2 separate regions of the Homo sapiens genome follow, and region 2 is linked to region 1. The links come from fine-mapping of genetic effects on gene expression. A gene starts in region 1. The other region holds a variant in brackets. All regions are shown on one strand. Distances are from middle to middle. Region 1 holds the start of RASAL3 (RAS protein activator like 3). Region 2 holds the start of CYP4F22 (cytochrome P450 family 4 subfamily F member 22).

Region 1 (15,557 bases):
TTTTTGTATTTTTAGTAGAGACCGGGTTTCACCATGTTGGCCAGGCTGGTCTCAAACTCCTGACCTCAAGTGATCCACCCACCTCGTCCTCCCAAACTGCTGGGACTACAGGTGAGACCCACTACGTCCGGCCCACCCCCAATTTTTTTTAATAAAAATAAAATAGATTTAGTTGAGTATAGTTAGTTGGTCCCCAGGGAGGACCAATGTGGGGTGAGACTGGACCCTTTCCAAATCTGAGAGGAGGCTGAGGGATGGTCTGTATGTGCGCTTTAATGCGGGTGGAGGAACAGGCAGAGAAACAGTTCCTGACCCCAGCCTTCAACCCCCTTGCCTGTAGGATGCCCGGCCATCCACCCCCGCTGCCGCTGGGGAGCGGCGCCTTATCGGGGCCGCCCGAAGCTGCTGCAGCTGCCGCTGGGATTCTTGTACGTGCATCACACCTACGTGCCTGCACCACCCTGCACGGACTTCACGCGCTGCGCAGCCAACATGCGCTCCATGCAGCGCTACCACCAGGACACGCAAGGCTGGGGAGACATCGGCTACAGGTAGGAGGGGCCCGACCGGGGAGGGGGCGGGGCCCACGTTCGGGGATGGGGTCTGAGTGGGCGGAGCCTGATGCAGGGGACCGGGCTTGAACCCGAGGAAAGCTGGCAAGACCAAGGAGGAGTCCTGATAGGTAGAGCAAAGTTGGAGAGGTGGCGTGGCTTAGGCTAGGGGCGGGGCCTTAATAGGGACCGGGAATAGCTAAATCATGGGACTCCAGTCAGGGTAGAGAACTAGTACAGGAGGCGGGATCTGGGAGAGGAGCGGGACCTGTGGCAGAGTCTGGGTCTGGGGCCAGGCAGAGATGGCCTAAAACAGACAAGGAGGCCTGGTGCGGTGGCTCCCGCCTGTAATCTCACCACTTTGGGAGGCTGAGAAGAGAGGATCGCTGGAGCCCAGGAGTTCGAGACCAGCCTGAGCAATATAGGAAGACACCCCCCCACACCACCCATCTCTACAAACAAAAAAAACTTAAAAAGGCCAGGCGCAGTGGCTCACGCCTGTAATCCCAGCACTTTGGGAGGCCGAGGCGGGAGGATCACGAGGTCAGAAGATTGAGACCATCCTGGCTAACACGGTGAAACCCCGTCTCTACTAAAAAATACAAAAAAATTAGCCAGGCGTGATGGCGGGTGCCTGTAGTCCCAGCTACTTGGGAGGCTGAGGCAGGAGAATGGCGTGAACCCGGAAGGCGGAGCCTGCAGTGAGCCGAGATCGCGCCATTGCACTCCAGCCTGGGCGACAGAGCGAGACTCCGTCTCAAAAAAAAAAAAAAAAAAAAAAAAAAAGCTGGGCATGGTGTTGCGCGCCTGTAGTCCCAGCTACTCGGCAGGCTAAGGTGGGAGGATCGCTGGAGCCCAGGAGTTCGAGGCTTGAGTGAGTTATGATCGCATCTCTGCACTCTAGCCTGAGTGACAGAGCGAGAACCCGTCTCGAAAAGAAGAAGGAGGCCGGGAGCGGTGGCTAACGCCTGTAATCCCAGCACTTTGGGAGGCTGAGGCGGGTGGATCACCTGAGGTCGGGAGTTCCAGACCAGCCTGGCCAACATGGAGAAACCCCGTCTCTACTAAAAATACAAAATTAGCCGGGCGTGGTGGTGCATGCCTGTAATCCCAGCTAGTCGGGAGGCTGAGACGGGAGAATCACTTGAACCTGGGAAGCGGAGGTTGCAGTGAGCCGAGATCGCGTCGTTGCACTCCAGCCTGGGCTACAAGAGCGAAACTCCGTCTCCAAAAGGGAAGGGAAGGGAAGGGAAGAAGGGAGGGGTGGCGAGGGGAGGGGAGAAGGCTGGGCACAGTGGCTCACGCCTGTAATCCCAGCACTTTGGGAGGCCGAGGAGGGCAGATAACCTGAGGTCAGGAGTTCGAGACCAGCCTGGCCAACATGGCGAAACACCGTCTCTACTAAAAATAAAAATTAAAAAAAAAATTAGATGGGCGTGGTGGCGGGTGCCTGTAATCCCAGCTACTCCGGAGGCTGAGGCAGGAGAATCGCTTGAACCCGGGAGGTGGAGGTGGCAGTGAGCCGAGATCGCGCCCTTGCACTTCAGCCTCAGCGACAAGAGTGAAACTCCATCAAAAAAAGAAAGAAAGAAAGAAGGAAGGAAGGAAGGAAGGAAGGAAGGAAGGAAGGAAGGAAGGAAGGAAGGAAAGAAAAAAAACCCAAAAACAGAAAAGCTCTCTGAATTGGGCAAGAACTGGGCTTGAGAAAAGGCAGAGGTGGGGAGGAGAAGGGCAGAAAGGGGCGTGCCAGTACTGAAGGGCGGATCCAGAGAAACCGAACGGTCCTGGAGTGGCAGCTGGTGTGAGAGTGGAACAGAGCTGGATGGGACACAGGCAGCGCGACCGCGCGGGTCTTGGGGTCGGTGGCCCTTGGCACACCAACAGAATCGGGGAGGGGAGCGGATAAGGGCCCGGGTCCCCCTCACGCCGCATGGTGCTTGCTTCTCCCTCCCCTCTGCAGTTTCGTGGTGGGCTCGGACGGCTACGTGTACGAGGGACGCGGCTGGCACTGGGTGGGCGCCCACACGCTCGGCCACAACTCCCGGGGCTTCGGCGTGGCCATAGTGGGCAACTACACCGCGGCGCTGCCCACCGAGGCCGCTCTGCGCACGGTGCGCGACACGCTCCCGAGTTGTGCGGTGCGCGCCGGCCTCCTGCGGCCAGACTACGCGCTGCTGGGCCACCGCCAGCTGGTGCGCACCGACTGCCCCGGCGACGCGCTCTTCGACCTGCTGCGCACCTGGCCGCACTTCACCGCGGTGAGTCTTCGCAGCCTGCACTACACGGCCCGCCGCCCCTCCGTCTACACAAGCTCCACGAGGCCCCTGCCCCCTGCCTGTAACAGCTGTGCCCGCACAGCCTCAGCCAGGCCCCCAACTTCCCGGCGGCACGTCTATTCAGGAAACCTAGGCCCAGCCTTTGCGGGTCACTCTGCGGGCAACATCCCTGATCCTGTGACTTCTGCCTATGCAGCCTCAGCTCAGCCCCAGACCCAGCCAGCCTGTCCTTTCCCCAGCTCCTAATACCTCTACCTTTCCAGCCAAGGCATGGACCCTGACACCTGCCAACAGCCCCTCTGCCCTCACAACCTCAGCCTGGCCTTCATGACTTCTCTACCCAAGTCACAACCTGTCAGGCTGCACCACCTCATCCTGGCCCGCCGAACCTTGACCTCACCCCTGCCCCTACCCGAAGGCCCTCTGTCCACACAACATGAACCTAGGCTGTGACCTTTTGCCTTCACAACCTCTGTCCAGTCCTTAATCCTGTGTTGCAATTCTCTGTCCAGACAATCTCAACTCTGAGGTTGCTTGTTTCGTCCCTGACTCCTTAACCCCTGATGACAACTCTTATGCCAGCACAACTTTGACCTGATGACCTCATCCCAGCCCTTGATCGCCATCACTAAAACAATTTTAGAATCACACCTGGACAATCTCGTGCTACCTACATACTGCCACTCCATTTCATTAAGCTATTGACTAGCACATCCATCTCGGCCTATAGTTGGCTTTGTCCTCACTCTCTCACTTTGGGCCACTGTCCCCTCCCTGATCCAGGGTTCCACCACCAGGAGGGCAGACCCAGCCACATACCACAACCACCCCCAAGCCTCACACTCCCTTGTCTTTTTCCAGACTGTTAAGCCAAGACCTGCCAGGAGTGTCTCTAAGAGATCCAGGAGGGAGCCACCCCCAAGGACCCTGCCAGCCACAGACCTCCAATAAAGACAGCATGGAAACAAAGTCTCTGTTCATGCATCATCATGCATTGTCTTAGTTTGGGTCTTCCCAAAAGCAGACCTTAAGACAATAATTCCAGTACAAGTAGTTTATTGAGAGGAGATCCCAGGGCAGGGCACGGCAGCTCACATCTGTAATCCCAGCACTTTGGGAGGCTGAGGCGAGGGGATCACCTGAGCTCAGGAGTTCGAAAACAACCTGGGCAATAGAGTGAAATCTCATCTCTGCAAAAAAAAATTTTCAAATTATCCAGGCATAGCCAGGCACGGTGGCTCATGCCTGTAATCCCAGCATTTTGGGATGCTGAGGAGGGTGGATCGCCTGAGCTCAGGAGTTCAAGACCAGCCTGGCCAACATGACAAAACCCCGTCTCTAACAAAAATACAAAAAATTAGCCAGGAGTGGTGCCACACACTTGAGGTAGGAGGATCACTTGGGCCTAGGAGGCAGAGGTTGCCGTGAGCTGAAATCACACCACTGCACTCCAGCCTGGGAGACAGAGCAAGACCCTGTCTCAAAAAAAGAAAAAATTATCCAGGTACAATGTTGTGTGCCTGCAGTCCCAGCTACTCCGGAGGCTGAGGTGGGAGGATTGCTTGGGCTGGGAGGTCGAGGCTGCAGTGAACCATGATTGCGTCACTGTACAGCAGCCTGGAGAAGAGAGTGAGAGCTTGTCTCAAAGAAAAAAAAAGAAAGAAAGGAAGAAAGAAAGAACGAAAGAAAGAGGAAAGAAGGGAGAAAGGGAGGAAGGGAGGAAGGAAGGAAGGAAGGAAGGAAGGAAGGAAGGAAGGAAGGAAGGAAGGAAGGAAAAAAAAAAAAAGAAAAAGAAAAAATAGAGAGGTGAACAACCCAGGTACCGATGCAGGGAACTGGAGGCAGCCAGGGAATAATGTGTTTTCAAGCAAGTTTCCACTGTAGGCAAGAGAGCTCAGTCTCACTTCGAAGCCCTGAGGGAGAGCATAGGACACATACCTGAGTCATCCCACACAAGGGTTGAGGGAGCTGGGGTATTTATACACTAATTCCCACCAGTTATTATGTGAGGGCTGCTCTCAGGGACATGTTAATTCACTGGCACTTTTGGAATGCTTGTTACACAGACATAGTGGACTCCATCTGCTAGATACAAATGGCTGCAAATGTCACCTCCTCAGGGAAGTCCTCCCTGATTTTTCCAGCTCAAAGAGTGGCATTTTTGCTCAGCATTCACTGCAGCCTATTTCCTTCTAGGTCCTCCTTACCAGCTAGAAATGTCTCATGTATGAGTTTAGGATCTTATCTACCTCCATCATCTGTGAGCTCCAGGAAGGCAGAAACCAAGTTTGGTTAGTTCTCTGCGGCCTCTCCAGCACCTAGCATGTAATAGGCACTCGGGAAACATTTGTTGACTAGACAAAGGCTTACATGAATCTTTTGAAACTGATATTATCGTCTTGTACAAATAAGGAAAACGAGGCTCAGAGAGAGGAAATGACTTGTCTGAGGTCACACAGAGGGAGAGGGGCCAGCTGGTACTCGGCTCCTGGACCGGATTTATGCTGACTCATTTATTCCTCAGAATGGCATTTACTTACCTCTGGCTTTCAAGTAAACATCTGTGGAAGCCTAACAGAGATACAAGAAAGTGCTCCCAAGGGCACAGCTTGATGAATTTTCACAACAGCACACAGCCATGTAACCAGGACCCAGCTCAAGAAATAGAACATGTTAAGCCAAGCGTGGTGGCACACATCTGCAGTCCCAGCCACTACAGAGGCTGAAGCAGGAGGACTGCCTGAGCCCAGGAGTAGGAGACCAGCCTGGGCAACATAGTGAGACCCTGTCTCTTTACAAAAAAAAAAAAATTAAAATTAGCCAGGCATGGTGGCATGCACCTGCAGTCCCAGCTACTCAGGAGGCTGAGGCAGGAGGATTGCCTGAGCCCAGGAATTCAAGGTTGCAGTGACCCACAATCATGCCTGGGAATAGCCACTGTACTCCTGCCTGGGTGACAGAACAAGGCTTCGTCTCTCTGGGCACAGAGGCTGATGCTATTCCTGTATTCCCAGCACTTTGGGAGGCTGAGGCATGAGGATTGCTTGAGCCCAGGAGTTCAAGACAAGCATGGGCAACATAGTGAGGCCCCATCTCTACAAAAAACAAACAAACAAAAAGTTAAAAATTAGTCAGGTAGCATGCACCTGTAGTCCCAGCTACTCGAGAGCCTGAGGTAGGAGGATCGCTTGAGCCCAGGAGGTTGAGAATGCAGTGAGCTGTGATTGTGCCACTGCACTCCAGCTTGGCCAACAGAGCAAGACCCTGTCTCAAAAAAAAATCTTATTAAAAAAAAAAGAACATGCTAAATTTGTGTTATATGAATTTTACCTCAATTAAAAAAAAAATAGGCCAGGCATGGTAGCATGTGCCTATTATCCCAGCTACTTAGGGGGCTGAGGTGGGAGGATCACTTGAGGCCAGGAGTTCAAGAACAGCCTGGGCAACAAAGCAAGACCCTCATCTCAACAACAACAAAAAAATTGTTTTTAATAAGCCAGGTGTGGTGGCATGCAGCTGTAGTCCCAGCTACTCAGGAGGCTAAGGCGAGAGGATCTCTTGAGCCCAGGAGTTAGAGGTTACAGAGAGCTATGATGGCACCACTGCACTCCAGCCTGGATGACAGACCTCATCTACAAAAAATAATAATATTCATATTATGTATAATGTAATATTATTTATATTACTATGTAATATAAATATTATATTTTTATTTTATGAGATCTATATTATTTTTATAGACCTCATTTATAAATAATAATAATAATAAGGGCCGGGCACGGTGGCTTACGCCTATAATACCAGCACTTTGGGAGGCCAAGGCGGGCAGATCATTTCAGGTCAGGAGTTCAAGACCAGCCTGACCAACATGGTGAAACCCCGTCTCTACTAAAAATACAAAAAAATTAGGCAGGCATGGTGGTGAATACCTGTAGTCCCAGCTACTCAGGAGGCTGAGTAGGGAGAATCACTTGAATCCGGGAGGCAGAGATTGCAGTGAGCCAAGATCGTGCCACTGCACACCAGCCTGGGAGACAGAGCGAAACTCCTTCTCGATAAATAAATCAATTAATAATAATAAGAGTAATAATAAATCTTGCCATCTTCCAGAAGCCCCCCTTGTACCCTCTTCCCAGCCACCAGTGCCTCCAAAAGAAACTGATACCCTGCTTGTTAGACATGGTTTTGCCTGCTTTAGGACTTTATGTAAATGGAATCACAAAGTGTATACTCTTCATTGTTTTGGGGTTTTTAAATTTATTTATTATTGCTTTTTAGAGATGGGGTCTCCCGAGGGCAGGGAGGGGAAAAAGAAAAAAAAAAGTTAGATATGAGGTCTCCCTATGTCACCCAGACTGGAGTGCACTGCCTATTCACAGGCATGATCACAGCTCACTGCAGCCTCGAACTCCTGGCCTCAAGCGATCCTCCTCCCTCAGCCTCCTGAATAGCTCAGATTACTGGCATTTTATGGCTTTGGTTTTGGTTTTGGCTCAACATTGTTTGTGATTCACCCAAGTTAAATCATTCTTTAGTTTGTTCTCACTGCTGTATGATATTCTGCTGTGCGAAGAGATCACAATTTATTCCTTCTCCCACTAATGGGTACTTAGGCTGCTTCCAATGTGGGGCTATTATGCATTGTGCTGGGGGGGCATATCTATTGGACGTCTACCTAGCAATGGAATTGCTGAGTCAGAGAAGATCCAGCTAGTAGTGTTAGTAGATCCTGCCAAACCGTTTCCCAACATGAGTGAATGGGTCTACACTCCGGCCAACTGTGGATTAGAGTTCTAGGTGCTTTGTATTCTCGCCAGCATTTGTTCAGCCTGTACTCATTTTGCAGAGAAGGCAACGGAGGCTCAGAGAGAGGGGCAAGTGCTGCCTCCCCGTCAGGGAGGCAGTCTGGGTCCTTCTTGCTAGAAGCCTGGTAACCCACCTCCTCTCTTCTCCTCCCTCGAACCTCCAGCAACCTGCCCGCACTGTGCCCTCCCAGCCTGGCTGTGGGGTGGGGTGGGACAGAGAGGGTCACGTGGAGTTGGGTTCCGAGGGAGGAAGCCAGGCGGGGTGCAGACGGCTGCTGATTCTGGGGCTGGTCAGGAAACCAAGGTAAGGGAGGGAGTGGAGGTGGGGGCAGGGGGATTCCTGGAGGCAGAGCTGAGGGTGGGGAGGGGGCCGAGATGAGGGCAGTATGTGGACAGACACTGGGCACTACTGTCACTCTCTCGTCCCCCAGGAGACCCCCCCCCCCAACCATGGACCCACCGTCGCCAAGCCGGACCTCCCAAACCCAGCCCACAGCCACCTCTCCGCTGACTTCCTACCGCTGGCACACAGGGGGCGGTGGGGAGAAGGCGGCTGGAGGGTTCCGCTGGGGCCGCTTTGCTGGCTGGGGCAGGGCCCTGAGCCACCAGGAGCCCATGGTCAGCACCCAGCCAGCCCCTCGCTCGATATTCCGTCGGGTCCTATCTGCGCCTCCCAAGGAGTCACGGACCAGTCGCCTTCGACTCTCCAAGGCCCTCTGGGGGAGGCATAAGAACCCACCGCCGGAGCCAGACCCGGAGCCGGAGCAGGAGGCCCCAGGTACATGGTTCCCCCACCCTGAGCTTGGGCCGGGCTGGGAAGCCGGATGCTTGGGTTTTGTCTGCCTCCGGAGCATCAACCATACAGACACAGGAAGTTGTGGGGAGTGCAAAAGCCCAGCAGGAAGCCGCTGGGGCCCAGCTACCCTGTTCCCTCTTTCCCCCTAAAGAGGGTAGGAGGAGTTGCCGGGGTCCTGTGGGCAGAGGGTCCATCTGAGGAAGGAACAGTGAATGTAAACCCGTGATAGTATTGTCCAGAGGCTAAACGGCTCTTGGCCCCAACGGGTCTCTCCTTCAATGGCTCAGGCCCATCCTTTCCTACCTGGATATCCATCTTCAGCCTGCCTCCTACTCTCCTACCTTCTAGCTTCCGTGTCTTTGTTCTGAGCCCTTAAGCCTCAGCCTCTCCATCAGTTCAGTGAGAATAATGATCTCCATTTTGGAGAGTATATAATTTTATTTGCTCATATTCATTCATTTATTCAAGCAGAGGTTTGTTGAGCTTCTATTGTATGTGCCAGGCCCTGATTTAGGCACTGAGGACACACTAGTGAAAGAGACAGATGACCCTCCCTGCCCCATGGAGCTCACAGTGTAGTGGAATTGACAGGAAATCCATCAACAAGAAAATGACAGATGGGCCAGGCATGATGGCTCACACCTGTAATCCCAGCACTTTGGGAGGCCAAGGTGGGTGGATCACCTGAGCTCAGGAGTTCGAGACCAGCCTGGCCAACATGGCAAAACCCTGTTTCTACTAAAAATACAAAAAAAAAAAAGTATCTAGGCATGGTGGCACATACCTGTACTCCCAGCTACTCAGGAGGCTGAGGCAGGATAATCGCTTGAACCCGGGAGGTGGAGGTTGCAGTGAGCTGAGATTGCACTACTGCACTCCCGCCTGGGCGACAGAGGGAGACTCCATCTCAATGGAAGAAAAAAAAAAAAAAGAAAGAAAAAAAATGACAGATGGTGCTAAGTGTCACACAGGGGGATCTAGAAGAGTAATGGATATCACAAGAATTAGGGCTCAGGAATGTAACACTAGCCTAGGGCCCAGCATTTTTTTTATTTTTTTTTTGAGATGGAGTCTCGCTCTGTTGCCCAGGCTGGAGTGCAGTGGCGCGATCTCGGCTCACCGCAAGCTCCGCCTCCTGGGTTCACGCCATTCTCCTGCCTCAGCCTCCTGAGCAGCTGGGACTACAGGAACCCGCCACCATGCCCAGCTAATTGTTGTATTTCTAGTAGAGACAGGGTTTCACTGTGTTAACCAGAATGGTCTCGATCTCCTGACCTCATGATCCGCCCGCCTCAGCCTCCCAAAGTGCTGGGATTACAGGCGTGAGCCACCGCGCCCGGCCCCAGGCCCAACATATTTTAAGTGATCCGTTAATAAGCGGGAGTTATCATTTATTGCTCCTGGTGGTAAAAACAAGGGAACAGACAGGCAATCTGGGAGGGCTAATTCAGCCCTCCTATTTCCTGGAAGCTCATTTAATTCTCACTGCTTATATTCCCATTTTGTTTTTGTTTTTGTTTTTGTTTTGAGACACAGTCTCACTTCCTTGCCCAGGCTGGAGTGCAGTGGCGGAATCTCAGCTCACTGCAACCTCTGCCTCCCAAGTTCAAGAGATTCTCCTGCCTCAGCCTCCTGAGTAACTGGGATTACAGGCATGTGCCACCACGCCTGGCTAATTTTGTATTTTTAGTAGAGACGGGGTTTCTCCATGTTGGTCAGGCTGGTTTTGAACTCCCAGCCTCAGATGATCCACCCGCCTAGGCCTCCCAAAGTGCTAGGATTACAGGTGTGAGCCACAGAGCCCAGGCACATCAGGCTATTTTTTAAAGACAGGGTCTTGTTATGTTGCCCAGGCTGGTCTCAAACTCCTGGTCTCAAGCAATCTGCCCCACCTCGGCCTCCCAAATGTTGGGATTACAGGCATGAGCCACCTTGCCCAGCCCCTGTCCTGTTTTTTAACCTCTTGGACCCACATAATGTCTTGGTTAAGAGAAGAATGCAAAAAAAACAAAAAAACAAAAAAAGAGAGAGAGAGAAGAATGCTTGTGACTGAAGCCCAGCCCAACCACTCACAAACTGTGTGACCCTGAGCAAGTCACTCAACCTCTCTGAGCCTGTTATCATAGCCCTTTGAATGGCTTTTGGAGGATTCAATGCAAGAAGGTGTGTGGAGTGGTATACAGGGTACTGGGCACATGGTAGGTGAGTTGTGTCTGCTACCCATGGTTAGTGGGGACAAGGCCCAGACAGCGATGAAAGCTTGCCCAAGGTCATACAGTCTGATACGGCTGCTGGGGTGGGGGGCACCTAGGAGGGAACCCACCATGAGCCTTCGGGAATGGAAAGGGTAGCCTGAGGGAGAGAAAACGTCTCTTAAGTCCCCCAGTGCCTCCTCTTCTTCCCAGAGCTGGAGCCGGAGCCAGAGCTGGAGCCCCCTACCCCACAGATCCCTGAGGCCCCCACACCCAACGTGCCTGTCTGGGACATTGGGGGCTTCACCCTGCTTGATGGGAAGCTGGTGCTGCTTGGAGGAGAGGAGGAGGTGAGAGGGGGCACCTGGGAAAGGGGAGGAGGGAAGAAAGAAAAAGGAGGAGGGCAGAACAGAGGCAGGGGCTGGAGGGAGGATAATGGGAAGGTGTCTGCCTCTCCCTCGGTCTGCCTGCCTGCCTGCCTGCCTGCCTCCCCTCTCTGACTACCCACTCCTGCGGGAGAACAGGGTCCTCGAAGGCCCCGGGTGGGAAGTGCTAGCTCCGAGGGCAGCATCCACGTGGCCATGGGGAACTTCAGGGATCCAGGTAAGCTTGAGGGGTGGAAAGGCCTGGGGCATTTGGGAGGCTCTAAAAGTGGGGCAGAATCCAACCCCCCAACCTGCCACCCATAACGACCCACAGATCGGATGCCTGGAAAAACAGAACCGGAGACTGCTGGTCCCAACCAGGTCCACAACGTTCGGGTAAGGCAGCCAGTGAAGGTGGGAGGTAGAGGGGAGAGCCAAGACTCTCGGACCCTCAAAGCTGAAAGGGCACTCTTGCTGGGTGATCTGGAGCAGGTTGCTGACCCTCTTTGGGCCTCAGAGTCCCAGTCTGTCAAATGAAGCTAATGAAATAACCTTTCTCTAGGGGTTGTTTATGGGAAGCCAATAGAGAGTGCAGGAGCCAGGCAGGGCAGTGCGCAGCTATAGTCCAAGCTACTCGGGAGGCTGAGCAGAGAGCACTGCTTGAGGCCAGGAGTTCAACACCAGCCTAAGCAACATGGGGAGACTTCATCTCTTAAATAAATAAATGAATAGTATAGGAGAATATATGATTGATGCTTTACAAATGGGAGTTTGGGCCAGGCACAGTGGTTCACACCTGTAATCCCAACATTTTGGGAGGCTGAAGCAGAAGGATTGCTTGAGACCAGGAGTTCAAGACCAGCCTGGGCAACATAGCAAGTCCCCAATTCTACATGGTAACATTCACCTGTAGTCCCAGCTGAGGCAAGAGGATCACTTGAGCCCAGAAATTTGAGGCTGCAGTGAGCCATGATCGCACCACTGTACTCCAGCCTGGGCGACAGCACGAGACCCTGTCTTAAAAAAACAAATGAACAAAGAATTAGGAGCTGCTGATTGCTCTTATTATTCCTGCTAATACAGCCTGAGCTTGGTGTTGGTCCTCCAAGACCAGTAGATCCTCTGGGATGTCTTGGGAGGGAAGGAGCTGAGGAAGGAGCACAGATTTCTGTCCAGCTGACATTCCCTTCCCCACAGGGGTTGCTCAAGAGGCTGAAAGAGAAGAAAAAGGCCAGGTTGGAGCCCCGGGATGGGTAAGGGTGTATGAGAGGCTGGAGGGGCTGGGGTTCAACACTGGCCCCTCCTCCTCCACCTCCTGCATATCATTCCAATCTACACCAAACACCCCCTGTGGCCTCTGTGTTCTGCCCCACATCAGTTGATGCTGGGGACATTGAATGATCTAGCACAGAGCCAGGGTGGGGGCAAAGTCTGACACAATAACTCTAAAATGGGAGCTAAGTCAATCAACTGGTCTGGGAGGGTTAGGGAAGGTACCCTTGAGCTGAGATCTGAAGGGTGGATGGAAGTTAACTAGGCCAACAGGGGGGTGGAAAAAGCATTCCAGGCAGAAGGAACAACAAGTGCAAAGGCCAAGAGGCCGAAAGAAGCAACTAAAACAAGGCCAAGAGGGCTGGGTGAAGTGGCTCCCAGCACTTTGGGAGGCCAAAGTGGGCAGACTGCTTGAGTCTAGGAGTTCGAGACCAGCCTGGGCAACATAGTGAGACCCCATTTCTACAAAAAATACAAAAATTAGCTAGGCATGGTGGCGGGCACCTGTAGTCCCACCTACTGGGGAGGCTGAGTGGGAGGATTGCTTGAGCCTGGGAAGTTGAGGCTGCAGTGCACAGAGATCATGCCACTGCACTCCAGCCTGGGCAACAGAGCAAGATTGTGTCTCAAAAATAAATAGGGCTGGGTGCGGTGGCTCACACCTGTAATCCCACAGTTTGGGAGGCAGAGGCAGGTGGAACATTTGAGGTCAGGAGTTCAAGACCAGCCTGGCCAACGTGGTGAAATCCCATCTCTACTTAAAATACAAAATTAGCCAGGCATGGTGGCGAATGCCTGTAATCCCAGTTACTCAGGAGGCTGAGGCAGAAGAATCGCTTAAACCTGGGAGGTGGACATTGCAGTGAGCCAAGATTGTGCCACTGCACTCCTGCCTGGGCAAAAGGGCAAGACTCCATCTCAATAAATAAATAAATAAATAAATAGGGCTGGGCACGGTGGCTCACACCTGTAATCCCACACTTTGGTGAGGCTGAGGCGGGTGGATCACTTGGGATCAGGAGTTCAAGACCAGCCTGGCCAACATGGTGAAACCCCACCTCTACTAAAAATATAAAAATTAGAAAATTAGCCAGGCATGGTGGTGGGCACCTGTGATCCCAGCTACTTGGGAGGCTGAGGAAGGAAAATCACTTGAACCTGGAAGGCAGAGGTTGCAGTGAGCTGAGATCCAGCCACCGCACTAAACAAGACTCTGTCTCAAATAAATAAATAAATAAATAAATAGGATAAAATAAAACAAGGCCAGGGAGGCTGGAGCTCAGAAAGTGATGGATTAGGTGGAGGGAGATGAGGTGACAACATCTGGACCCAGCTTGGTCATGTAGGTCACCAGGAGTTGAGTTTATCCTAAAAGCAAGGAGGTGCCATGGCGGGGGGTGGGGGGGGCACGGGGGAGAAACGGGATCCGAATTGGGTTGAAGTCCTTCCTGGCCTTCCTCTACCCTTCAGGCTATGGGGGATGGGGAAGAGGCAGGAATGACGGTGTGCTCACCCACCCCCTTCCCAGACCCCCCAGTGCTCTGGGCTCTAGGGAGTCGCTGGCCACACTCTCTGAACTGGACCTGGGTGCCGAGCGGGATGTGCGGATCTGGCCACTGCACCCCAGCCTCCTGGGGGAGCCCCACTGCTTTCAGGTAAGTGTAGACAGTCCACCTCGATTCCACCTCAGTCCCACCTCCCACCCTTTGGCTTCACCCTTGGCCTCGATCACACCGTTGGATTCTCCATCCCAACAGGTAACCTGGACGGGTGGAAGCCGCTGCTTCTCTTGTCGCTCGGCCGCTGAGAGAGACCGCTGGATCGAGGACCTTCGTCGCCAATTCCAGCCCACCCAGGTCATTGCCCTCAGAAAAGCGGGACACGGAGACCCCGCCCACAGGCCTGGCCCGCCCCTTCCACTCTACCCAAAGCCAGCTCGCTCCATAACCCGCGCCCCCAACACACCTGCCCCGCCTGCATCGTTGCAACGGCTCCAAGACTCCCCTTCCATCTATTACCAGCCCCGGGAATATCAGACCCGCCCCTTCTGTCCACTCCCGGCCCCATATGCACCCAAAGCCCTGCCTGCCAGGCAATCGCGAAGTCTTTACTCCAGTACTACTCTTGTATGCCCTGGAGCCCCCAACTCTCCCGGAGAGCCCAGAAAAGCTAGAAGACTTCCGCGTAACCGCCTCCGGACTCCCGTGGCTCCACTTCTTTCCCCAAAGGCCCAGCAATCTCCCTAGGGACCCGACGCAACAGGTTTGAGGCTCCACGCTTCACTTGCGGTGCCTTCTTTGGGGTGCCAACAAACCAAAACGCTTCCCCCCATCCCACTCCCATCTGCAGGACAACGTGGAGCGGGAAGAGACATGGCTGAGCGTGTGGGTGCACGAAGCGAAGGGGCTTCCCCGAGCAGCGGCGGGGGCACCCGGCGTGCGCGCCGAGCTGTGGCTGGATGGCGCGCTGCTGGCACGCACGGCGCCTCGGGCCGGCCCAGGCCAGCTCTTCTGGGCCGAGCGCTTCCACTTCGAGGCGCTGCCACCGGCACGTCGCCTGTCGCTGCGGCTGCGCGGCTTGGGCCCGGGAAGCGCGGTGCTGGGCCGCGTGGCCCTGGCGCTGGAGGAGCTGGACGCCCCACGCGCGCCTGCCGCCGGTCTGGAGCGCTGGTTCCCGCTGCTCGGGGCGCCGGCGGGCGCAGCGCTGCGGGCGCGGATTCGGGCGCGTCGCCTGCGCGTGCTGCCGTCCGAGCGCTACAAGGAGCTGGCGGAGTTCCTCACCTTCCACTATGCGCGCCTCTGCGGGGCCCTGGAGCCCGCGCTGCCTGCGCAGGCCAAGGAGGAGCTGGCGGCAGCCATGGTGCGCGTGCTGCGGGCCACCGGCCGGGCGCAGGTGCGGCACCGCGACAGCGCGGACCGGGGCTACCAGGGGTAGACCGATAACGCGCTTCGGGCAGGAGTTGGGGCGCAGGACCTGAGTTGCACCTGTAATGGGGGAGACACCTTGAAGGGGTGTGAGGGGCGTGGTCCAAGTGTCACCTGTAAGCGGCGGGGCACCTAGAAGGGCGGGGCACCTAGAAGGGCGGGGCCTGAACATCACCCGTAAGGGGCGGGGCACCTTGAAGGGCGGGACCTGAGCGTCAGCTGTGAGGGGCTGGGGCTGAGCTGCACCTGTAAGGGGCGGGGCACCTTGAAGGACTGGGCCTGAGCTTCAGCTGTGAGGGGCGGGGCCTAATTATCACCCATAAGGGGCGGGACACCTTGAAGAGCGGAGCCTAAGCTTCAGCTGCGACAGGGGCCT
Region 2 (15,557 bases), 46 kb before region 1:
TTTTGTCATGGACCACAACAACCTACATGGCTTACCCCTGTTGATGCCTCTAGCCCTGTCTCCCACCACCCTCCTCCTCACTTGCTCACCTCAGGCTGCTCCAGGCCACTCCTTCCACAGGCCAAGCAACTTCCCGTCTCAGAGCCTTTGCACATTCTGTTCCCTCCATCCACATTCCTTTCCTCAGCTGTGCCCACACCAGCTCCTCATCCTCCAACCCCAGCTCTGCCCTGATGGTCCACTCCTTTGCACCACAATCAGCCACCTCCCCTAGATCACTCTCCAAAGAATCATTGAGTGCCTGTTATGTGTGATGATTTTCACTATCATTCACTCCATCTTCCCAGTAAGCCTTAAAGAGAGCTGGAAGACTTCTGAGTGAAATCACAGCTAGAGCCCCCAACTCGCACCCAGGAAAATCCCAGCTGAAATCTCAACAAAGGAAATGTCTTCTGGAATGAATGAAATGGGAAAGAATTGGGATAAGAGAAGGTGCCAGCCCTAGAGAGGGATCCCTGCTCCAGGTGGCTGGGTACATGGGGAGATGGGTGCTTGGGGAGGGTGAGAGAGGGGAGTTGTGGAGCCCTGTGTCCGCTTCACCTCCCCGTCCCCCTACCAGACATGGGCTGAAGTCCTTCCCAGGACAAACAACCCCTGGCTCTGCCCCCAGGCAGGACCACATGTTGTGAGTCCCCAGTTGGGACACTCTCTGGAAGCCTCCAGTTTCTCCACTACAAAATGGGAATCATGACAAGAGGTCCACCAGATGCCCATGGGAAGACCACCATGAAAGGTACATTGGGGAAGTCCTATACTTTCCACAGCTGGGGTCCTCCTGTCCCTCAAACAAGAACACTTCTGTCTGGCACCCACAAAAAAAAATAGTGCAGCCACTGTGGGGAAACCCTAGAATTATCATTTGAGGTCGGGCACGGTGGCTCACACTTGTAATCCCAGCACTTTGGGAGGCTGAGGTGGGCGGATTGCCTGAGGTCAGGAGTTCAAGACCAGCCTGGCCAACATGGCAAAACCCCTTCTCTACTGATAATACAAAAAATCAGCCATGCGTGCCTGTAATCCCAGTTGCTTGGGAGGCTGAGGCAGGAGAATCGCTTGAACCAGGTAGTCAGAGGTTGCAGTGAGCCAAGATCGTGCCACTGCACTCCAGCCTGGCAACAGACTCCGTCTCAAAAAAAAAAAAAAAAAAAGAATAACATCTCTTCAGGCCACGTACCCCATGGACCTCTCATGAGATCCTCTGAGCAAGTGGACTATCTTTCCAGAGTCCAGGGATTCCAGGTTGAATACAAAGACTTCCCCAAAAACAACAAGAATGAATTTGTATCTCTTATCCATTGCTCCTCTCAGCCGCCTCTGATCAGCCATAGTGTTATAAGTAAAATGTTTATTCAGAAATAGAATGCTTGTTCCTCGGTACTGCAAGTAAAAATCAGCATTCAGATAATAAGTTTTCTCAGCAAGGCAATTTTACTTTCTGCATAAAGGGTGCTCCTTGCAGATGGAATAATGGCGAGAGCACACCTGAACAAAGGAGGGAAGCAATTTTTATCCCTTATGCAGTTTGTCCTTGCTACTGTGTCCTGTCTCCATTGGCTGAAGCAAGACCTCACAATCTAAATTAAACCTGACTGGCTAATAATTTAAAACTTTCCTAAATAGGTAAAGGCAATAGAGAGCAAAGGAAAAGAGGAAGTTGCTTACAAAAGGACTTAGAAAAGCAATAATATTTCCAAATAAGGAAAGGGCATGGGCTGCGAGCTGGGACATGCCTGTGAGCACATCCAGCACAGATATCTTGGTTAAAGTACAAGGACGTAGAATGTACTATGTGCCTGTGAGCATGTCTAGTACAAATATCTTGGTTAAAGTACAAAGACATAGAATGTACTTATTCTCTTATATCTAACACATAGTATTGGCAAGGATGTTGAGTCCTGCTATGATATGGCTGCACTAAACATCTTTTTCTTTTTCTTTTTTATTTTTCAAGACCGAGTCTCGACCGGGCGCGGTGACTCATGCCTGTAATCCCAGCACTTTGGGAGGCTGAGGCGGGCAGATCACGAGGTCAGGAGATCAAGACCATCCTGGCTAACATGGTGAAACCCCATCTCTACTAAAAATACAAAAAATTAGCCGGACGTGGTGGCGGGCGCCTGTAGTCCCAGCTACTCAGGAGGCTGAGGCAGGAGAATGGCGTGAACCCAGGAGGCAGAGCTTGCAGTGAGCCGAGATCGCGCCACTGCCCTCCAGCCTGGGTGACAGGGCGAGACTCCATCTCAAAAGAAAATAAAAAAAAGACAGAGTCTCGCTCTGTTGCCCAGGCTGGAGTACAGTGGTGCTATCTCAGCTCACTGCAGCCTTTGCCTCCCGGGTTCCAGCAATTCTCCTGCCTCAGCCTCCTGGGTAGCTAAGATTACCGGCATGCGCCACCACACCTGGCTAATTTTTGTACTTTTTAGTAGAGACGGGGTGTCACCATATTGGCCAGGCTGGTCTTGAACTCCTGACCTCAGGCGAACCATCCACCTCGGCCTCCCAAAGTGCTGGGATTGCAAGCGTGAGCCACCGTGCCTGGCCAGCTGCACTGAACACCTTAAAGTTGCTGTCTGAGTTGGACCAACAAAGTACAGAGATGCCAAGAACAGGAAATGGATCAATGTCTGTGTGTGGGAGGTGCTGAACCTTTTCTGGCCATGAACCATTATAAAATCCCAACATATACACTGAAAATATTAAAACTGCTTTGAAAATTTGGAATTTCTGATACCTCTAGTGGGCCGAGAGACGGTGGGTAAAGGATGTGGGCAGCAGCAGGGAACACAACAGGGGAGGTGGCTGTGGCCGGGCTGGACTGTGCTGGGGTTTGTTGTGACGGCCACTCGGTGACCTGGCTGTCCCTACGCAATACCAGCTGCCTTTGGGGAAGAAGGGCTGCCCAGCCAGCTGGCTCTCCTGGGGCACCAGCAGATCCACGCCCTGGGCACCTTCCTGTTTGGTCTTTTTTTTCCCGTGTGAAAGAAGAAACTGAAAGCATGACCCCTTCTCAAGCTGGCTTAGTTGGGACAAACCCTGGACAGCCACACCAGAGAGAGGCCTTCAACCAGCCCCAGAGCTAAAAGCACCAGAGAAAGTCAAATGCTTCCTATTCAGCATGACCTAACTTCTAGTGTGCCACGGCCCCACCACTTCCTGCAGTGCCCACACCATCACCACTGCTTTCTCTTCCAACAGTGATCTGTATTCTTAGTTTCATTATTTCCTTTTTATTGGTATGACACTATATAAAATTTTCCTCCTTCCTGCCTTCCTTCCTTCTTTCTTTCTTTCTTTTTCTTTCTTTCTTTCTTTCAAGACAAAGTCTCACTCTGTCACCCAGGCTGGAGTGCAACGGCACAGTCTTGGCTCCCTGCAACTTCTGCCTCCCAGGTTCAAGCAATTGTCTGCCTCAGCCTCCCGAGTAGCTGGGCCACCACACCCAGCTAGTTTTTGTACTTTTAATAGAGACGGGGTTTCACCATCTTGGCCAGGCTGGTCTTGAACTCCTGACCTCGTGATCCACCCGCCTCGGCCTCCCAAAGTGCTGGGATTACTGGCATGAGCCACCGTGCCCGACGACACTATATAAAATTTTCATTTGAGAGTTTCTCAACTGTATCTAATTATATCGCACAGTTTGGAAACTTTTCTGAGACTGACTTTATCAATAATCTAACCGACAAAGATCATATCCACGTGTATGTAGTTAGACATTTTTATTTCATTGACTAACCCAGCACCATTTCAGTGATGCAAATTACGTGCCCTATGGTTCAGCTGAAACAGTCCTGGACTTTCAAAAACCTTGAATAAGTCTCCCACAGTTGTATAAATTGGACAATTTAGGAATTTTAAACTTTAGATGATCATTTGCTTCCATTTTTATTTTATTTTTATTTTTGTTAATGCAAACAGGACTTAAACAAATGAACTTTGATCTCCATTTTAAATATTCTTTAAGAAAATCATGTGTCTATACATACGGCTCTTGAGGACTTAGCTTTCACTACACTACAGGATATGATCTCCACATAGTTCACATAAAACTGCAGACTGATTTTCCAGAGTGCTCGATACTATTAATTACATCTCGATTAGGGCTGAAAAGTATGACCTATGTTTCTTTATACAGTTGTGTTGCTTTTGATGTTGTGTTACTATACACAGAAGTGTGTGCACTGGGCCGGGTGCGGTGGCTCACGCCTGTAATCCCAGCACTTTGGGAGACCGAGGGGGGTGCGGATTGCCTGAGCTCAGGAGTTCGCAACCAGCCTGGACAACACGGTGAAACACCATCTCTACTAAAATACAAAAAAATTAGGCTGGGCGTGGTGGCTCACGCTTGTAATCCCAGCACTTTGGGAGGCCGAGGCGGGCAGATCACGAGGTCAGGAGATCGAGACCATCCTAGCTAACACGGTGAAACCCCGTCTCTACTAAAAATAAAAAAAATTAGCCGGGCGAGGTGGCGGGCGCCTGTAGTCCCAGCTACTCGGGAGGCTGAGGCTGAAGAATGGCGTGAACCCGGGAGGCGGAGTTTGCAGTGAGCCGAGATCGCGCCACTGCACTCCAGCCTCGGTGACAGAGTGAGACTCTGTCTCAAAAAAAAAAAAAAAAAAAAATATATATATATACAAAAAATTAGCAGGGCGTGGCAGCATTCGCCTGTAGTCCCAGCTACTCAGGAGGCTGAGGCAGGAGAATCGCTTGAACTCGGGAGGCAGAGGTTGCAGTGAGCCGAGAACATGCCACTGCACTCCAGCCTGGGTCACAAAGCGAGATTCCGTCTCAAAAAAATAAAAATGAAAAAAGAAGTGTGTGCACTGAGGCTCTGTGTGTGGTCCATATGGAAAGCCTGGTACCCCTGCGAGTTAAGTACTGCCTCCATTCATCGTTTACACTGGAGTTTTTCTCCTCATGGAATGCGAGTAAAACTTAGTGTTTGTCACCAATAAATGGTAATACAAAAAAGAGAGAGAGAGAGAGAGAGAAAAGCTTTGAGGACCCAGGAAAAATGGTGGCAGCCTCTGGAAAGGGCCTGAAAGAACTCGGGACAGGGGTGGAAGGGAAACTTAAGTTTACTATCCACTTTTCCAGTCGTTTTGGTTTCCTATACCATGAGCACATGTCACCCATTCAAAAAAAATTGAATCAATTATAAAAATTCATTAGTTTACTGCATGACACAAAGAGTGAATCCTAATGTAAACTATGGAGTTTAGATAATGGAGGAAAGGTATCAGCCAGGTGAAGTGGCTCATGCCCGTAATCCCAGCACTTTGGGAGGCCAAGATGGGAGGATCACTTGAACCAAGGAATTTGAGACCAGCCTGTGCAACATAGTGAGACTCCGTCTCTACTAAAAAACAAAAAAATCAGGCCAGGCATGGTGGCTCATGCCTGTAATCCCAGCACTTTGGGAGGCTGAGGAGGGAGGATCACTTGAGGTCAGGAATTTAAGACCAACCTGGGCAACATGATGAAACCCTGTCTCTACCAAGAAAAAAAGAAATAGCTGGGCATGGTGGTGGATGCCTGTAGCCCCAGCTACTTGGGAGGCTGAGGCAGAGGTTGCAATGAGCCAAAATCTTGCCACTGCACTCCAGCCTGGGGGACAGAGTGAGACTCTATCTCAAAAACTAAAATTAATTTAATTTAATTTAATGTTCACTTTTGACTTCAACAGGCCTGGGTTCAAATCTCAGCTCTCCTATTCCCTAGGTTAGCAGCCTTGGGTGAACCCAGTCCCTGCCATCAGCCTCCCTTTGCCAATCTGTGAAATGGGTTGATAATAACAGGACCTACCCCCTAAGGTTTTTGGGACGGCTCAGTGAAATGAGGCATGGAAAGGCCTTGTCACGTAGCTCACAAAATGTTAGCCATGATGACTACTCCTATTATTGCTATTTGATAGAAGTGAGAGCAATTCAAAGGTGACACCCTCAGAATGTTGTGGGCGGCTGGCATGTCCACTCCCTATCTACACCGGCCCCCGATCTCATCCAGCAGGCCCGCCTTGGTAGAGGTGGCCCTGCCCTGCCAGGGCCCGCATTATCTGGTGGTGGTGAAAGCCAGCGACTGGCTCCGTGTCCCGGCCCACGCCCAGGTCGCGCTGGTTTGTCAGGTTGGCCCAGCCGTTCACCCACTGAGGACTTGTTATACAAGGTGTGTGGGCTCCCAAGAAGGAGTGGAGGGCACGGACCCAGGCCGACGCCAGGTACGAGATACATGCCTCTTCTTGAACTGCAGGGGCTGGGACCAGCCAGGAGCCTGATGGAAGAGCACCCCAACGCTGGCCCCATCACCCCAAATCCCAGCCCTCCTTTTCACTCCAAGCCTGTAGTCAAGGCAGCCTGCCCCCGTCCCCACTGATTCATGGTGCCACCTTGGCTTCCTCAACATCAGAGGGCTGGCTTACCCCAGAGACTCACATATTCCCCCAAAGTGCCAGACCCCAGAAGGCTGGAGCTGAGAGGGGACTTCTAAGTTGTTTTGTTGTTGTTGTTGTTTGTTTGTTTTGTTTTTTAGACATGGTCTTGCTGTGTCCTTCAGGCTGGAGTGCAGTGGTGTGATCTTGGCTCACTGCAACCTCCCCGTCCTGGGCTTGAGTGATCCTCCCACCTCAGCATCCTGAGTAGCTGGGACTACAGGCGCCTGCCACCATGCTCAGCTAATTTTTTTTTAATTTTTTTGTTAAAAAAAATTAATATAGTGCTGGGCGCGGTGGCTCATGCCTGTAATCATGCCTGTAATCTCAGCACTTTGGGAGGAGGGAGGATCACCTGAGGTCGGGAGTTCGAGACCAGCCTGACCAACATGGAGAAACCCCATCTCTACTAAAAATACAAAATTAGCCAGGCATGGTGGCACATGCCTGTAGTCTCAGCTACTCAGGAGGCTGAGGCAAGAGAACAGCTTGAACCCGGGAGGCAGGGGTTGCAGTGAGCCAAGATCACGCCATTACACTCCAGCCTGGGCAACAAGAGCAAAACTCCATCTCAAAAAAAAAAAAAAAAATATATATATATATATATATATGGTATCCCTATATTCCCCAGGCTGGTCTCAAAGTCCTGGGCTCAAACCATCCTCCAGCCTTAGCCTCCCAAAGTGCTGGGATTACAGGCATGAGCCACCACACTCAGCCTGGCTTCTAGGTCTTCAGTCTCCACTCAGCACTCTAAATTTCTAAGGTTCTGAGAAAGAGCTTCAGAGTCATTTATGACTAATGAGGGCAGGGCCAAGTTGGCAAATGTGGTAAAGGAGACAGTCCTATCGCAGCTTTGATCATATTCAAACCTTTTGCTAATAATTTCCTTGGCCCAAAGGGGATCCTGGCAGAAAAAGAAGTTTTAAAACCACTAATAATCTAGACCATTGCAGGGTTGTAATTGTTTCTGCCCACCATCCCAAGTGTGGCCACACCTGGACATGAGCCTCAGAAAAGATTCTATAAAGGTCTGCCTCTTTGCTGTGCGACCTCGGGTGAGTGTCTGCACCTCTCTGAGCCTCAATTTCTTCATCCATTAAGACAGAAGCCCTATTTACCCACCTCATGGGGCTGCAATCTTCCAGGCACATAGTAAGCCTTTGATCAATGATATCTCTCATTACCGTTGGTGCTGCCATCACGTTCATTATTGTGACCTGGCCATCTGGGGTTTGGAGAATCAGGTCCAAGTTTTATCAACAAGGAGAGATGAGTCAGGCGCAGTGGCTCATGCCTGTAATCCCAGCACTTTGGGAGGCTGAGGCGGGTGGATCACTTGAGCCCAAGAGTTCAAGACCAGCCTGGGCAACATGGTGAAACCCCATCCCTACCAAAAATACAAAAAGTAGACAGGAGTGGTGGTGCATGCCTGTAGTCCTCCATACTCAGGAGGCTGAGGTAGGAGGATTGCTTGAACCCAGGAGATCGAGGCTGCAGTGAGCTATGATTATGCCACTGCACTCCTGCCTGGGTGACAAAGTGAGACCCTGTCTCAACAACAACAACAAAAAAAGAAAGAAAGAAAGAAAGAGAGAGAGACAGAGAAAAGAAAGAAAGAAAGAAAGAAAGAAGGAAGGAAAGAAAGAAAGGAAGGAAGGAAGGAAGGAAGGAAGGAAGGAAGGAAGGAAGGAAGGAAGGAGAGATGGGTCCCATTCCCTGAATGCCTCTCAAGTCATCCAAGCCCCTCTGCAGATACCAACCTGGGTCACCGCCAGACACCAGGCCAGAGTTAATGTTACTGTTCAGAAACCCAAGCTGGGCCATTTGGTGATGCCGGGGACATCGGAAAGTGGACTGAGGCTTTGGGGTCAAACAGGGCTTGTTTTTTCAAATCCCAGCTCTCCCACTGGGCACTGGGTATCCACAGGCACAGGCTTCTTCTCTCTGGCCCTCAGTTTCCGTGCCTGTAAAATGAGGGTGGTAGGGAAGATTTGGGGAGGTTCCTTCTCTTTGGGGTTTGGAGTTACACAAGAAGGAGTTTGATGCTGCCAGCCCTGGCTGGGCACAGCTCCAGGACCTAGAAATAAGGGGTGGAGCAAGGGGCACAGGGTAGGAGGAATTTCGGGTACGCAGCCAGCCCTGGCCATCTCCTTTGCCTACAGGGCGGTGAGACTCACAATGAGTGCATGAATGAGCTGTGAGCGGGCAGATGAACCAGGAGAGATGCCCTGAGCCTAGGCCTCTCCAGCCTGCGACTCCCCAGGTGGCCAGCCTCGGCCAACTTGCATACCCAGGCTGGGCCAGGCCCCTGGGAGGCCAGAAAACATCTTCCTTCCAGCATCTATCAGACGAAGATCACCTGGGACCAACCCCAGGACCTCACACAACCCTCAGAGCCAACTCTCGGGGCCAGAAGAACACCGTCTTTTCATAGAGGGGCTCTGCGTCTGGCATGGATGGGCAGAGGGTTCCTGATAGCAGTTG[A/G]ACCACAAGCCTAACCCCATCGGTTGAATGTACTACAACCTCCCCGTCAAGACAACGTGCAGTGGTGAAATCTCAGGGCGAATCCCCATTCAGCCCCAAAGAGGCGTCCCAGGGCGGGGCTTGAACCCATCTGGGATGTCCTGACTACCAGAGGGGTCTTTTGGAGGCCCCCTGCCCATCACAGATACCCAGAGAAAAGGATGCGCCTAGGACTCCGAGGCGCACACAGAAAAAAAAAAAAAGAAAACAACTCACAAATGCAGCAAACGTCGGGGACACACCCACGTGCCCCTCTCCCCACGAGTGCCCCGGGCATGCAGCCCCGTCCTGGGTCCTGGGGGGGTCCCCGTGGCCGGCTGCGCCCCGCCCGCCGCCGCGCGCAGACCTTCGCCCTTGCCCCGCCAGCACCGAACCGCGCGAGCCTCGGGTTCCAGCGCAGCGCCGCGGCCGCGCTCAGGTTACAGCCCTCACCACGCGCGCACTCACCCGCGGGTCTCAGCCTCCTGCCCTCGATCCGGATCCACCGGCGCCACTACCTGGGATCTGACCGCGCCGTCCCACGGCCCAACCCTTTAACCCCGCCCGGCCGTGCCGAGGGGTCCGCCCCCGGACATCCCGCCCCGGGCTCCCGCAGGGTTCTGGGCGGGGACTCCAGCGCTGCCCCCTAGAAAAGGAGAGAACAAGAAATAGGCGTGTGGAGGGGTGGAGAGCGATGGAAAGAGAGAGAGACTGAGACTGAGATGGAGAGATGAAGAGAGACAGAGACTTGGACACCTAGAAGTCCCAAACCATCAGGCTCCCCGCCCTCCTGCCACTGCTGGGCCGCATTAGCGCCCAAGTCCCGCTCTGGACCACACTCCTCCCACACCAACACCCCCCATGGCCCTTACTTCCAGGTTTGCTCCCAAGCTTGGACAGCGATCTCTAAACCATCACCCCCTGGGGCCCCACTGACCCCCCCGAGAAGCCTCCTCTGGGGCCCTCAGGAATTCTCTGGCTCCACCAGCCCTTGGGAACCAGCCCTTCCCCTCTCTCTGGATCCTGGGCCTAAGCTTCCCCGGCACCCACCCCTGGAGGCTCTGCAGCCTCTTCCTCCAGGAAGACCTCCAACCTCAACAAGCAGCACCAGACTGGTTCTGCTCCCCGCCAACCCGCCCTCCGCCACTCCTCCCCACCCACTGCCAGACACCTTGACCCTCTGACCAGGATGTTGTCCTTGGCCAACCCGTCTACTCCAGATGTGTGGAGACAGAGTCAGCTCCGCCTCTGGATGTGTCTGTCCTCCGGAGTCGGTGGGTGGATGTGTGGCTGACCTTAGCACGTGGGCAGACAGATGAGAAGACAAGAATCTCCACTTGCCCCAGCAGGTGGTAAACTTAGAAGACTTCCTTATCCCTCTTTTTTCTAAGAATACGCTCTCATTTGGTGCTGGGCCCTTGGAAAGAGGGCGTGGGAGGTGTGGGGCATGTCTCCTGGTGAAGAAGAGGAGACACAAGTAATTGAAGTTTTGCTGCTTGGAGGAGGCAGACATGAGGTCAGGGAAGGCGACGTGGAGGATGTGACACTTGAGCTGGGACTGCATGGAGAGGTTGGATTTCAACAAGTGCAGGAGAGGGGGTAGAGCTCAAGCACAGAGAAACTGGAGGGTGTGACTTAGCAGATGGCTTTCCCTGGCCTTGGAGTGTGAGAGGTGTGGAGGCTGGAGGGATGCAGGAGTTGACTGTGAAGGCCAGTTTGAATGGCTGGATCTTGATCTGGTGGGCAGTGGGGAGCCATGGATGGTGCTTGAGTAGGGGAGGTGCCCCCTGTTAGTTGATTGGTCTCACTCTGTCATCCAGGCTGGGGTGACTCCTGGGCTCAAGCCATCCTCCTGCCTCAGCCTCCTGGGTAGTTGGGACTACAGACACGTGCCACCACACCCAGCTAATTTTTTTTTTTCATTTTTTTAGAGACAGGGTCTCACTATGTTGCCCAGGCTGGTCTCAAACTCCTGGGCTCAAGCCATTCTCCCAGCTCCTAGAACTTTTAAAAAAAAATATTTATATTTATTTGTGTCTTTAATCTTTTTTACTTCTGAGGAAGAGCTTATTTTATTAATTTTTTATTCATAATTAACGCAGCATGAAAGCCTATTTTTTAGGGATATGAATTTTGTTTTGCCAGTAATTCTGGCCAAGGGGGAGCTTACTAGAAGCACTTTGGAAAATGCAGAGATCCACATAGAGTGAAGTTTGAGAGGGACCCCTCCAGTGGCTGCAGGGGACAGAGACAAAGGGTGGGGGTAGCTGAGACCCAGGAAGGGGTTAAGGATGAGGTCCCGGAGGTCATCTCCACTGACCACTGGCTAAATACGGGGTTCTAGGGAAGAGAGAAGGAAAAGAAGCCATCTGCCTGGCTTCTCTGCTCTCAAAGAGCTGGAGACCAGGAAGGAGGAGTAAGTGAAAGGGCCTGGAGCACTAAGAGTGGGCTTCGTGGATGTGTGGCCTTGAGCTAGTCACATGGCTGCTCTGAGCCTCCATCTCCCTATGCATAAAATGCAGAAGAAGCCCATGTGATGAGGTGGTGTTCAGCCCCACTCCTGGCACAGGGCACAGGCTGGACAAACATCAGCTGTTTGAGTTTGCAGTTGATTGGGGCCATCCCAGCAGAGTAGAGTTTTCCGCCAGGGAATGTTTAGCAACATCAGGAGATCATACTGCTGGGTGGGGGGTAGAGGTGGGGGTGGGGGAATTCAGGGTGGTGCAACTGACATCTAGTGGGTGAAGGCCAGAGATATTATTCAACATCCAGAACACCCCCACCCCCAAAGAATAATCCAGGCTCAAATGTTGACAGTGCTAAGATTGGGAAACCGTGGGTCACCTTCAGTCTAAAAGTCTCGTGGGTCTCATGGGATGACATTCAGGGAGACATCCAGGAGGCAGTTGGGCTCAGCGTGAGGGCACCTCCTGAGAATTGCATCTGTGAGTCACCTGCCTTGGGAAGACGGTGGATGGCATGGCAGTAGGTCAGCGAGATCACTCAGGAGGGAGGTGGGCAGAGAAGAGGAGGGGAGGGCAGAAGTGGGGATCACAGCCACTTTTTTTTTTTTTTTAAGATGGAGTCTCACTCTGTTGCTCTGTTGTCCAGGCTGGATACAGTGGCACAATCTTGGCTCACTGTAACCTCCGCCTCCCGGGGTCAAGCGATTCTCCTGCCTCAGCCTCCCGAGTAGCTGAGACTACAGGTGCCCACCACCAAGCCCGGCTAATTTTTGTATTTTTAGTAGAGACGGGGTTTCGCCGTATTGGCCAGGCTGGTCTCAAACTCCTGACCTCAAGTGATCCACCTGCCTTGGCCTCCCAAAGTGCTGGGATTACAGGCATGAGCTGCCGTGCCTGGCCTTTTATTTTATTTTTTAATCAAACAGAGTCTTGCTCTGTCACCCAGGCTAGAGTGCAGTGGTGCTATCTTGGCTGACTGCAACCTCCACCTCCCGGGTTCAAGCAATTCTCCTGCCTCAGCCTCCTGAGTAGCTGGGATTACAGGCTTGCACCACCACGCCCGGCTAATTTTTGTATTTTTAGTAGAGACAGGGTTTTGCCATTTTGGCCAGGCTGGTCTCAAACTCCTGACCTCAGAGATAATAGCTACATTTATAGAGAGGACAGGCAGCAGCACTGAGCTGGAGCTGGAGATGGAGTTTGAGAAGAGTGGTAGTAGGGACCATCACTGGCACCTAGACGTCAAGGAACCCAAGCTCTAGAGCTGTGTGGTTCCCATGCCACCAGAGCCCTCAGCCTGCCACAGCCCAGGGCTCAGTGGGGTGAGGTTGAAGTGGGAGGGGAGGAAGTGGAGGCTGTGGCTGGACTTGGGAAATGGTAGTAGAAAGCTGTCTGGGAGTGGATGTGGCAGGTCATGGCAGGGAGTCAAAGATAAAAAGAAGAGGGATCTCGCCATACCCTGCTGGTGGCAACGTAAAATGGTTCAGCCACAGTGGAAAACAGTTTGGGAATTTCTCAAAAAGCTAATCAGAATTACCATAGGACCCAGATATTCCACTCCTAGGTATACACACACAATAACTGAAAACAAGTACTTGCCAGGTACAGTGGTCTACAGCTGTCATCTCAGCACTTTGGGAGGCTGAGGCAAGAGAGCATCACTTAAGCCCAGGAGTTCCAGACTAGCCTGGGGAACAACATAGCAAGACTTCATTTCTACAAAATATAAAAAATTAGCTGGACATGATGTGCGTACCTATAGTCCCAGCTACTTGGGAGGCTGAGGTGGGAGGATAGACAGCTTGAGACTGGGAGGCTGAGATTGCAGTCAGCTGAGATTGTACCACTTCACGCCAGCCTGGCTACAGAATGAGACCCTGTCTCAAAAAAAAAGAAAAAGAAAGAAAGAAGAGACAGAGAGAGAGAGAGAGAGAGAGAGAGAGAGAGAGAGATAAAGAGAAAGAAAGAGAAAAGAAAACAGTTACTCACACGTAATTGTAGAGGAGTGCTCGGGATAGCACGATTTATTATAGCCAAAGGTGGAAACAACCCAAATTCCACCAACAGATGAATGGATAAACAAACTGTGGTCCATCCATACAATGGAATATTACTCAGTCATAAAAAAGAATAAAGGCCGGGCGAGGTGGCTCTTGCCTGTAATCCCAGCACTTTGGGAGGCCGAGGCAGGTGGATCACCTGAGGTCAGGAGGTTGAGCCAGCCTGGCCAACATGGTGAGACCCTGTCTCTACTAAAAATACAAAAATTATCTGGGCACGGTGGCGGGCACCTGTAATCCCAGCTACTCGGGAGGCTGAGGCAGGAGAATCGCTTGAACCCGGAAGGCAAAGATTGCAGTGAGCCAAGATCGCACCACTGCACTCCAGCCTGGGGGACAGAGTGAGACTCCGTCTGAAAAAAAAAATACAAATAAAAATAAATAAAACCCTGATCCATGCCGCAATGTGGATGAGCCTCATAAACATTGTGCTGAGTGAAAGAAACCAGACACAAAAGGTCACACAGTGCATTATTACATTTATATGAAATATTCAGACTAAGTGAATTCACAGAGACAGAAAGTGGAGTAGTTGTTGCCAGGGGCTGGGGGAGGGGGGATGGAGAGAGAAGCCCATACCCAGGGGGAGTGGTTATAGGACCTCCTTTTGGGGTGACAAAAACACTGGAACTAGATAAAGGTGATAGTTGCACAACATTGTGAATGCACTAAATGTCACTGAATTCTACACTTTAAAGGGTTAATTTTATGTTATGTGAATTTCACCTCAATTTTTTTTTTTTTTTTTTTTTTTTTTTGAGACAGAGTCTCACCTGTTGCCCAGGCTGGAGTGCAGTGGTGCGATCTCAACTCACTGCAAACTCCGGCTCCTGGGTTCAAACAATTCTCGTGCCTCAGCCTCTCAAGTAGCTGGGATTACAGGCCTGTGACACACAGCCAGCTAATTTTTTTATATTTTTAGTAGAGACGGGGTTTTGCCATGTTCGCCAGGCTGGTCTCAAACTCCTGGCCTCAAGTGATCCTCCCTCTTCAGCCTCCCAAAGTGCTGGGATTACAGGCATGAGCCACTGTGCCCGGCCTCACCTCAATTAAAATAAATACTTTATATATATATATATTATATATATATAATAATTATATATATATAATATATAATAATTATTATATATAATATATATAATAATTATATATATAATTATTATTATTGGGAGGTCGAGGCAGGAGGATTGCTTCAGTCCAGGAGTTCAAGACCAGCCTGAGCAACATAGCCAGACCCCATCTCTAAAAAAAATAATTTTTTGTAAAAATTATAAAAAATAACAAATTAGGCATAGTGGTACATGCCTGTAGTCCCAGCTACTCAGGAGGCTGAGGTGGGACGATTGCTTGAGCTCAGGAGTTTGAGGTTTCAGTGAGCTACAATTGCACCACTTCACTCCAGTCTGAGCAACAGAGTGAGACCCTGTCTCTAAAAACAAAAGAGGGCCAGGCGCGGTGGCTTATGCCTGTAATCCTAGTACTTTGGGAGGCCGAGGCGGGCAGATCTCCTGAGCTCAGGAATTCGAGACCAGCCTCGTCAACATGGTGAAACCCTGTCTCTACTAAAAATACAAAAATTAGCCGGGCATGGGGGCTCACGCCTGTAGTCCCAGCTATTCGGGAGGCTGAGGAAGGAGAATCACTTGAACCCGGGAGGCAGAGGTTGTAGTGAGCCAAGATCGTGCCACCGCACTCCAGCCTGAGTGACAGAGTGAGACTCCATCTCAAAAAAAATAAAAATAAAAAAGAACTCGGCAGGAAACAGACCGAACACTTAAGTGGAGTAATTTGTAGAGAGTTTAATAAAAAGCACTATTTTCAAAGGGATAGTGCAGCACACCAGGGGCTGGTAACAGCTGAAATTAGTTACCACCCCTAGGACCTGGGGCCAAGGAACTAAAGTTGCTAGAACCTGGACCAGACAGGGCTATGCAAAGAGGTCCACCTGTCAAGAGTTCTGAACCTCCGGTGGAGGGACACAGCCAGCCTGCATGGAAAGAAGATGAGTTACAAATAACCTAACCTCACTTTCCTCCCTCC

What was found.
Region 2: its variant is fine-mapped to the expression of RASAL3 in whole blood (INTERVAL, PIP above 0.99).

The regions. Positions count from the first base shown.
Region 1 is chr19:15,456,884-15,472,440 of GRCh38, reverse strand. RASAL3 (RAS protein activator like 3) reads left to right here and starts at 7,897. Exons shown (of 18, transcript NM_022904.3): 1 at 7,897-7,936; 2 at 8,064-8,410; 3 at 10,834-10,970; 4 at 11,145-11,223; 5 at 11,320-11,381; 6 at 12,183-12,238; 7 at 13,786-13,912; 8 at 14,015-14,113; 9 at 14,607-15,149. The coding sequence starts at 8,083. It overlaps PGLYRP2 (peptidoglycan recognition protein 2), which reads left to right. Exons shown (of 5, transcript NM_052890.4): 3 at 341-551; 4 at 2,512-2,809; 5 at 3,689-3,796. The coding sequence ends at 3,778. RefSeq lists enhancers at 2,406-2,455, 2,466-2,555, 7,554-7,663, 8,304-8,433, 8,534-8,673.
Region 2 is chr19:15,502,487-15,518,043 of GRCh38, reverse strand. It overlaps CYP4F22 (cytochrome P450 family 4 subfamily F member 22), which reads right to left and starts at 9,519. Exons shown (of 14, transcript NM_173483.4): 1 at 9,461-9,519. It also overlaps the pseudogene LOC100422106. RefSeq lists an enhancer at 9,375-9,875. The variant A/G (reference allele first, on the strand shown) is at 8,975.